Linked DNA regions of Homo sapiens. The protein of the gene in region 1 purifies or fractionates together with the protein of each later gene. This does not show direct contact. Each region holds a gene or a part of one and is shown in the gene's direction. Other genes may lie near its edges.

Evidence for each region.
Region 2: the proteins of TRIM10 (region 1) and MTMR1 purify together in Homo sapiens (affinity purification with mass spectrometry; 3 studies listed by BioGRID and IntAct, with this or other methods). This does not show direct contact.
Region 3: the proteins of TRIM10 (region 1) and EMILIN3 purify together in Homo sapiens (affinity purification with mass spectrometry; 3 studies listed by BioGRID and IntAct, with this or other methods). This does not show direct contact.

The regions. Positions count from the first base shown.
Region 1 is NC_000006.12:30,154,821-30,158,362, reverse strand, and holds part of TRIM10 (tripartite motif-containing protein 10), read left to right. Parts: intron 1-971; coding exon 972-994; intron 995-1,308; coding exon 1,309-1,424; intron 1,425-2,603; coding exon 2,604-2,636; intron 2,637-3,542. UniProt on the Homo sapiens protein: E3 ligase that plays an essential role in the differentiation and survival of terminal erythroid cells. May directly bind to PTEN and promote its ubiquitination, resulting in its proteasomal degradation and activation of hypertrophic signaling.
Region 2 is NC_000023.11:150,731,252-150,734,909, forward strand, and holds part of MTMR1 (phosphatidylinositol-3-phosphate phosphatase MTMR1), read left to right. Parts: intron 1-218; coding exon 219-368; intron 369-1,290; coding exon 1,291-1,479; intron 1,480-3,658. UniProt on the Homo sapiens protein: Lipid phosphatase that specifically dephosphorylates the D-3 position of phosphatidylinositol 3-phosphate, generating phosphatidylinositol. Could also dephosphorylate phosphatidylinositol 3,5-bisphosphate to produce phosphatidylinositol 5-phosphate.
Region 3 is NC_000020.11:41,361,581-41,363,916, reverse strand, and holds part of EMILIN3 (EMILIN-3 precursor), read left to right. Parts: intron 1-55; coding exon 56-279; intron 280-862; coding exon 863-2,336.

The DNA.
Region 1 (3,542 bases):
GTCCTGTGACTCTTGCATCTTTGTCTTGCCTAAGCCATGTCTCCCTGACTCACACATCTCTGTATCCCAGATGGGAGGTGGGTCAGAGGACCAGAAAGTCTCAATTCTAGTTCATGCTTTTCCAAGAGTTCCCTGGTCACTTTTTGCTCTCTGGTCTCCACCTCTCCGTCCCACCATCTGCCAAATAGGGAAGATACTTTCCTTAAATATTTCACAGGGCTTTTGTGAGGATCCAACAGTAAGATGGAAGTGAAAGTAGCACTTTGAAAAAGTATTAAGTAAGTTGCAAACCATTCTCTATAACCTAAATGTCACCAACCACCAGTCAGGAAGTTTGTCCTGGTCTATTTCACTTCCTCACACTGGAGGAGAGGTATTGGGGTCCCCACAAAGTATTGGAAAGGCAGCATGACTTAGAATGATGCTCTTAGGACTGAGAAACAGGAGACCTTGGTATGAGACTTACTTTGCCTCCAGTGAGCAGGGGAAGGTCACTTCACCATCTTTATCTAAAAAATAAAGGCTTTGGGCTCTGATCCACAGAGATGGGTGAGTCCTAATGCTCTGTGACTCTATGCATCTGGTATCCTTTTCCTGTCCAGGGCTAGAAATATATTTTGTCTTTTCCAGTCATAAGAAAAGTGGGAGGAGCCTGGGCAACATAACAAAACCCCATCTCTACAAAAAAAAAAAAAAAAAAAAAAAGAAAATTAGCCAGGCATGGTGACAAACACCTGTAGTCCCAGCTACTCAAGATGCTGAGGTAGGAGGATCCCTTGAGCCCAGGAGGTTGAGTATGCAGTGAGCCATGATCACGCCACTGTATTCCAGCCTGGGCACCAGAGTGAGACCCTTTCTCAAACAAACAAACAAGCAAATAAAAAATAAATAAAATAAAAGTAGAAAAAGAAAGGAAAGAAAAATGGAAAGGAGAAGCTGGAAACTGAATTTCTGGTATCTCTTTCTCCTAGGACATCAGAAGCACTCTAATAAGGTAAGCAATATAGTTTCTCTCTTTTCTTTTTCCATATAAATATACATACATGTACTGCATGCCTAGTTATTGCCACACAGGTATATAACATTCTCACTTAAGGATACAAATTTACATATAAACCTCTATATACCCAAATGCCTTCTCAGGTATATCCATAGATGCCCAAAAATGGGCAGTGGGATTCATCCTAGAGGAAGTACGTCTGCCTGCAGGAACTAGCGCCATCATGCCCTATTAGAAGATGACCAGCTGAGTCTGGAGACATTATTAAGGATGATAATTCCCAGACCCAGCCATTTCTGTGCCCCTAGATGTGAAACCAGAAAGTGCCGGAAACCGGTGGCTGTGTCGCCAGAGCTGGGCCAGAGGATTCGGGACTTTCCCCAGCAGGCCCTCCCGCTGCAGAGGGAGATGAAGATGTTTCTGGGTAAGAGAACCCCAGGCCTCCACAGAGCGCAGGTGGCCATGAAGCCTGGGTTTAGGAGTGGCCTCCACGCTCCACTGCTGAAAGGTGTGACTTTGGCAAGCCTTATTCCTTCCTGTGCCTTGATTTCCTTATTTGCAGATTTTTATAAAATCTGCCTATTAGGATATTGTGACAATGAAGAAAGAGAATAAAGGTGAATATTTCTGGTGAAAAAGTTAAACTGATTTTAAAATAATTCAACAAATCTGATTAGTGGTCATTAAGCAATATGAAAGATAATGATTAACAATATATCATTCTTAATAAGTTAAAAAATCCCACAGCAACATTTGTAATATGTGATAAGTTTTTGATGATGAACATTGTTAATTAATAGCCAACAACAGTATTTATCTTGACCCTGTGGTATCTGGCTCGTCCCTCCTTCCTTCTCACTTTCTTTCTGTTAGTCTGGCTCAGAGTTAGACGGTCCTACGGGGACTGTGCTCCACTTCCTTTTCCGGAACAGGGAGTGGTGGTAGGGTGTGGGGGAGGGTTTGGATGAGAGTCAGGAATGGGACATGGCTCTCTGCCAACCACCTCCTCACTAACCATGACAGAATGAATGATGACACCAATTTTGAAATGACCCACCCACAGTTATGTCACCCTAGAAGGACTTTTCCCATAATTCCATTTCCTGCAAATACTTCCAGTGACCTGTCAGTGAAGGAAATTTCACTCTAATCAAAGGCTGACCTTTGACTCTCCCCAAAATTATTTCCAAGTGGAATAATAAATAAATGAACCCATTTCTCTATTCACTAAGCAGATATTTCTTGAGCATTTACTATGTCCTGGGCTCTGCGGGTACAGAGGTGAGCAAGGCAGTCATGGTCCCTGTTTGATCAGGGCTAGGGCAGTGGGGCTCCCACCAGCAGCAGCAGCTGCATTGCCCAGGAAATTGTTAGAAATACAGATGTTCAGCTCCACCCCAGAGCACCTGAATCTGAAACAGATGTGTTTTAACAAGAGCTCCAGATGATTCTGATGCAAGCTTGGAACCACTGGTCTAGAGGATTCCAGCTTACATTCTTCTTCTTGTCCCTTCCCTCTTCTTGGCCTCAGTTTTCTCATCATTAAGTGTCTGATGGTTTTGTAAGACTAATAAAATCTCATCCTGGTTTATTTTCTTTACAGAAAAACTATGCTTTGAGTTGGACTATGAGCCAGGTAAGGAGCCTATGTCAGGATGGGAGAGAATGAGAAGTCCTCGGAAAGGAGAGAAAATTTTGCAGGATTTGCACTATGACTATGTTATGACTATGACAATAGTCATAACAAACACCCATGGATACATATACACATCATATATATTATATATACACATATGTGTGTGTATATAATACATGTGTGTATATATAGGTTGTGTGTGTGTGTGTGTCACATTGTTTGTAAGGCTCTCAGGAGAAACATGAAGAAAGGACAAGCACATACACATACTACATTCGTGGTATGAAGCTCACATCCTGATCTGCGCATGTCGAGTAGATAGAAAGATTAATGCAGAATGGGATAAAGTCCATCTGGGAATGCTTTCTGGATAAAGGGGACTTTGATCTGGGTTTATAATCACCTCTTTAGAACGTAAGGAACCCCTGCTTCCTCTCAGATGTCATTTCACAGATGACAGAAGGAGGGCGGCCTGTGGGTGGGAAAAAAATGAACAGAATGGACCCCTTCAAGGCTGTCATTTCTCAATCAACCAGCCTAAGACCCTGGGAGTCACGGAGTTGTTGGAGGGGGTTCTCTAACCCACAGATGGACCTAAATTTATGGAAGCTTCTCAATTTATGAATACTAAAAGTAACAAAACGCAAGGCTCTGCAGCAGTTTTTGGTGGTAAAAAGTGGTCCTCAGACTCTGACAGTTTCAGAATTACTGAGGCAGAGTGAATAACCCAGGGGTGAGCCAGAGAGCCTGCCAGGAGGGAAGACTGTAAATGAGTCACCAGTGCCCTGGGAGGAAAACAGGGAGGAATCATGAAGTTTGGACTGAAGGGAGAAATGTCGCTGCACTGTGGGATAGAGATGGGAGGAGGGGAGAATGTGGTATATCAGCCCCAGGAGATCCAAGCTG
Region 2 (3,658 bases), on another chromosome or scaffold:
TGGTTTGGATATTCTTATGCTTCTTTAGATTTTTAGAAATGTCTAGGAAATGGGTTTTACCGAATAAATATATATATTGACTTTTAAGTTACAATAAACAATAAATTATAAACGGATTTTAGTTGCAAATAAGAAATGGATGTACTTCATGCTTAGTACTTTTTCAAAGTGTAAAGTCATGCATTTCACCCTCTTCTTCTTTCTCCAACACCTTACAGGGCTTGCCAAATGAGAGTTGGAAAATATCCAAAATAAACAGTAATTATGAGTTCTGTGACACCTACCCTGCCATCATTGTTGTGCCAACTAGTGTAAAAGATGATGACCTTTCAAAAGTGGCAGCTTTTCGAGCAAAAGGCAGAGTCCCTGTAAGTAATAAACATTGTCATTTATATAGGAATATATATTGCGTTAGATCTAATATGGAGAGATTTAAGACAAAAAAGAAACTAGTGAACAAAAATGGAAAGCAGAAAAATAAGCTTATAAACCTGAACATACCTTTGATTCTCAACAAATACCTAATTATATAAACAATCTGTTTGCTATGACTCCCTCTTTTACGATTTCCTATAACTAAGTATAAGGGGAACTTCAGTCATACCCTCAAAAAGTAGTAGAGAATGACAAAGGAGTAGCAACAACAAGTTATCATGCTATTGTATTACCAGTTGGCATTGCTGGTTTCACTGAATCATCCTAGAGAAAATGCTTCTTTCTTAGATACTGAGCATGATGCCATAGCTGCGTGGGAGGGACATCATTACAGAAGTAGTAGCAGACAGCTGGGAGTAATGGTTTGAGCCCAGAGTTTGCATCTGTTGTAATCCTGAGTCACTTGGCCACTGGAGGAAAATGAGAGGTGGGGTGGCAGAGTGTCAGATTTTATAAGAGACTGTATATTCACTTTGTCCTTACCCTGCCACGTATATTATTGTTGAGATACAAAGATGTTTTTAAAATTAGGAGACAAGGTAAAATTAGTCAATCAAATTGGAATGGGGCTAGATTTTAGTAATAGTTTGATTTAGGATTTGTTTTTCTTAGAATCATAGAATATTGGGGATGGAAGGGGATTTTTAGAGCTCATGTAGTCAGAATTGTTTCATCCTGACCAAAACATTGAGTCTGATGGCCACTACAATGCTGTGATTGGCCTGCCCACTCTCACTTTTGAAGAAAATATGTATAAGAGACCGTGCTTGAGAAGGGAACTTGTTTTTCCTACCAGGTAATTAGAGCATACATTCTTTAGGAACTGTACTAATATTTATTGCTTAAAAACACTAGGTGTTGTCATGGATTCATCCGGAAAGTCAAGCAACGATTACCCGTTGCAGCCAGCCACTTGTGGGTCCCAATGATAAGCGCTGCAAAGAGGATGAAAAATACTTGCAAACAATAATGGATGCTAACGCACAGTCACACAAGCTTATCATCTTTGATGCTCGACAAAACAGTGTCGCTGATACCAACAAGGTATATTCTTAATAGCACTGCAGAAACACTGGATATTTTCATGTCCTGTCTGTAAATCATTATGCAGTTGGAATAACTCATTGATTTCCTCACCACCTGAAGTTAGAATCATTTGGAGTCCCATAGCTATTCCTCCCTGGTGTATGCTCCTTGGGCTGTGTTTGGTGTCTCACATGGGTTGGGATCTTGTCTGTTTCATTGCTTCTCTACAATATCCTGTCTGCTAAATCAATTAAGTAAAGACCTAGAAAGACAATTATCATCTAAAGGATTTAGCATTTTAATGAAATGATCGTGAGGTCCTTGGAAGTCCGTTTAAGGAATATAGTGGTTAGTTGATTAATTCATGTCTGGTCTGAATTTCTTTTAGAATGGAATCAGCCATGTGAAATGTGTAAATGTACAAAGTTTCCATAAATCTCATGGAGCACCTGTGTAGTGTACCTCGGGTGGCAGTGAGACATGGTTAAAAACACCTCCGTTCCCATGACTTTCATGATATCACACCCTGAGTTTCTCTCGCTCTTCAGCCTGGCCTTCTCCATCTCCTTCACTGATTTCTCTTCCCAGTCTTCAAATGGCATTGCTCCTCGAACTTGGTCTGGGGTCCTCTTTGCTCTACACAGACTCCTGGGGCCATCTCTGATGACACGGCTTTAAACACTGTCTGTATGCTGAGTTCAACTTGAGCTTGACACTGCAGTTTCTCTCCTGTCCTGATCCCTCCTAAGGTTGAGACTGGATTTCTATCCCATTGTATGGTTGACATCTCTGCTTGGCTGTTTCCCAGACCACAAACCCTCCGTATATTCCAACTGGCCTGAGAGGCACGATGGCAAGTTGGTGAGACCCCTTGGCTTTGGAATCAGTTACACCTGGGTTTTCCTCCAGGTTCTGCCACTTGGTGCTCTAGAATCCTGAGCCGGTTACTTAACCTCTCTCTGTGCCTCAGGTTCCTCTTCTGTAAAACAGGAGATAATATCAGTGTCTCATGTCATGGGTTGTGTGAGGATTAAAATTCAGTGAGAAGAATGCATGTAAATGACTTAGCACAGTGGTGAGTGCATCCTCAGGGCACAGTACATGATGCTGATAAGCTCGCCACCCCTGTGGTCAAGGGTGTTGCCCAGGTGTCTGACTTGAGGGTGAATAGTGGTGTCTGTTACTGAGATGGGGAAGACTGGGAGAGGAACAGGGCAGGGAGGAAGATGGGGAAGTATTAGTTTTCTGAGGCTGTCATACAAATTACTACCAATTTGTTGGCTTACAGCACCAGAAATGTATTGATCACAATTCTGGAGGCCAATTCTGCTCCCTCTAAAGGTTCAAGGGGAGAATCTGTTCCTTGCCTCTTCCAGCATGGGGTGGCTGCCCCAGCCTTCCTGGGCTTGCAGCCACATCACTCCAATCTCTTCTTCCGTCATCACATGACCCTCTCTTGCTCTGGGTTTCTGCGTCTCCTCCTTTCTCTTCTAATGACACTTGTGATGACATTTAGGTTCCACCTGAAATAATCCTGGATCCTTAAACACATCTGCAAAGACCCTCTTTTCAATTAATCTTGGAATCCTTAAACACATCTGCAAATCTCAGGATCCTTAAACATCTGCAAAGACCTTCTCTTCAAATAAGGTCACATTCACCATTGCCAGGGATTCGATGTGGATGTCTTTGGCGGGGCCACTTTTCAGCCTACCATAGGGAGGCATCCCTCAGTGAGGCCCCCTTGCTCCCCACATCTGGATCATTAGCTGTGTCAGTCTTTCTACATCTCTGCCTCCCACCTGTCACCACCATATCCCAAGGAATTACAAAATGTGAGAAAAGCCATATTGGTGGAGGCCATCTTCAGACTAGCCAACAGGGTGAGGGCAGTTCATTGTGTTTTATCCCATGCAGGAGAGATAGAGACAGGACACTAAATTGTATATCTAGAATAATTTTAACTATGGCAGTATATGTGTCTAGGAAACAGTATTTTCTAGGTCTCCACTGGTTCTTTATATATAAGATTATGTCATATGCAAGTCGAGATAATGTGACTTCTTCCTTTACAATCTGGCTGCCTTTCATATCTTCTTCTTGCATTGGTATTGCATTGGTTGATTTTTATATGTTGAACCACTGTCGTGGATTGAAAAATGTCTCCCAAAAGTTTGTCCAACTGGAACCTCAGAAT
Region 3 (2,336 bases), on another chromosome or scaffold:
GGAGAAGCACAGCCCTCAGGTGCAGGATCCCACTCTCTTGCCCTCCCTGGCCCAGGTACCGCACAGTACTCAGACCCAAATACAAGGTTGGCTACAAGACAGTGACAGACCTCGCCTGGCGTTGCTGTCCCGGCTTCACTGGGAAACGCTGCCCTGAGCACCTCACGGACCATGGGGCTGCCTCACCCCAGCTGGAGCCTGAGCCTCAGATTCCTTCAGGGCAGCTGGACCCAGGCCCCAGGCCCCCTTCCTACAGCAGAGCAGCCCCCAGCCCTCATGGTGAGTCTGCCCAAGGAGACCCTCCAAGGTGATTGGGTTTCTTGGGCTCAGTGGCAGGGGCAGGGAGGGGACTGATCCCAGGCTGGCTGAGCTCCGGCATGGATGGGGAGGGGCAAGCCCCAAGCCCCACTTTCACCCCACCATAAAGCTGAGGGAGTTATGCCCAGTGAGAAGGTAGGCTTAGAACAGAAAGTCTGGGCTGGGCGCGGTGGCTCATGCCTGTAATCCCAGCACTTTGGGAGGCCGAGGCGGGTGGATCACGAGGTTAGGAGATCGAGACCATCCTGGCTAACATCGTGAAACCCCATCTCTACTAAAGATAGAAAAAAAATAGCCGGGCGTGGTGGTGGGTGCCTGTAGTCCCAGCTGCTTGGGAGGCTGAGGCAGGAGAATGGCATGAACCCGGAAGGCGGAGCTTGCAGTGAGCCAAGAGCACACCACTGCACTCCAGCCTGGGCGACTGAGCAAGACTCTGTCTCAAAAAAAAAAAAAAAGAACAGAAAGTCTCTTGGGTGGCCTGGCATTGTGACAAGCTGAGAGGGTGAGGCCAGTGATGCCCCTGGGGCTCTCTTCTCTTTCCCAGGAAGGAAAGGCCCAGGGCTGTTTGGTGAGCGGCTGGAACGCCTGGAGGGTGATGTCCAGCGCCTGGCTCAAACATATGGTACCCTCAGTGGCCTGGTGGCTAGCCACGAGGATCCCAACAGGATGACTGGTGGCCCCAGGGCTCCTGCTGTCCCTGTGGGCTTTGGGGTCATCCCTGAGGGGCTTGTGGGCCCAGGAGACAGAGCCAGAGGGCCACTAACACCTCCCTTAGACGAGATCCTAAGCAAGGTGACAGAGGTGAGCAACACTCTTCAGACCAAGGTGCAGCTTCTAGACAAGGTGCATGGGCTGGCACTTGGCCATGAGGCCCACCTGCAGCGGCTGCGGGAAGCCCCACCATCCCCGCTCACCTCCCTGGCCCTGCTGGAGGAGTACGTGGACCGACGGCTGCACCGACTCTGGGGGAGCCTGCTGGATGGCTTTGAGCAGAAGCTGCAAGGCGTCCAGAGTGAGTGTGACCTGCGGGTGCAGGAGGTACGGCGGCAATGTGAGGAGGGTCAGGCCGCCAGCCGGAGGCTGCACCAGAGCCTTGATGGCCGGGAGCTGGCCCTGCGCCAGGAGCTGTCACAGCTGGGCAGCCAGCTGCAGGGCCTGAGCGTGTCTGGCAGGGGCAGCTGCTGTGGGCAACTAGCCTTGATCAATGCCCGTATGGATGGCCTTGAGAGGGCCCTGCAGGCAGTCACCGAGACCCAAAGGGGCCCCGGTGCCCCGGCCGGGGATGAGCTTACGAGGCTCTCTGCTGCCATGCTCGAGGGAGGTGTGGACGGGCTGCTTGAGGGTCTGGAGACGCTCAATGGGACAGAGGGTGGAGCAAGGGGATGCTGTCTGAGGTTGGACATGGGGGGGTGGGGAGTGGGCGGCTTTGGGACCATGCTGGAAGAGCGCGTGCAGAGCCTCGAGGAGCGCCTAGCAACATTGGCTGGGGAGCTAAGCCATGACAGCGCCTCTCCGGGCAGGTCAGCTCGGCCCCTTGTACAGACAGAGCTGGCTGTGCTAGAGCAACGGTTGGTCTCACTGGAGACTTCGTGCACCCCGAGCACCACCTCAGCCATCCTGGACAGCCTCGTGGCAGAGGTGAAGGCCTGGCAGAGCCGGAGCGAGGCCCTCCTACGCCAGGTGGCCAGCCACGCAGCACTGCTCCAGCAGCTCAATGGCACTGTGGCCGAGGTCCAGGGACAGCTGGCAGAAGGGACGGGCAGCTCACTTCAAGGCGAGATCACTCTGCTCAAGGTCAATCTGAACTCAGTGAGCAAGTCGCTCACAGGCCTCAGTGACTCTGTCAGCCAGTACTCTGATGCCTTCTTGGCTGCCAACACGTCCCTGGATGAGCGGGAACGCAAGGTGGAAGCCGAAGTCCAGGCCATCCAGGAGCAGGTCAGCAGCCAAGGCTCCAGGCTTCAGGCTGGCCACAGGCAGGTCCTGAACCTGCGTGGGGAGCTGGAGCAACTCAAGGC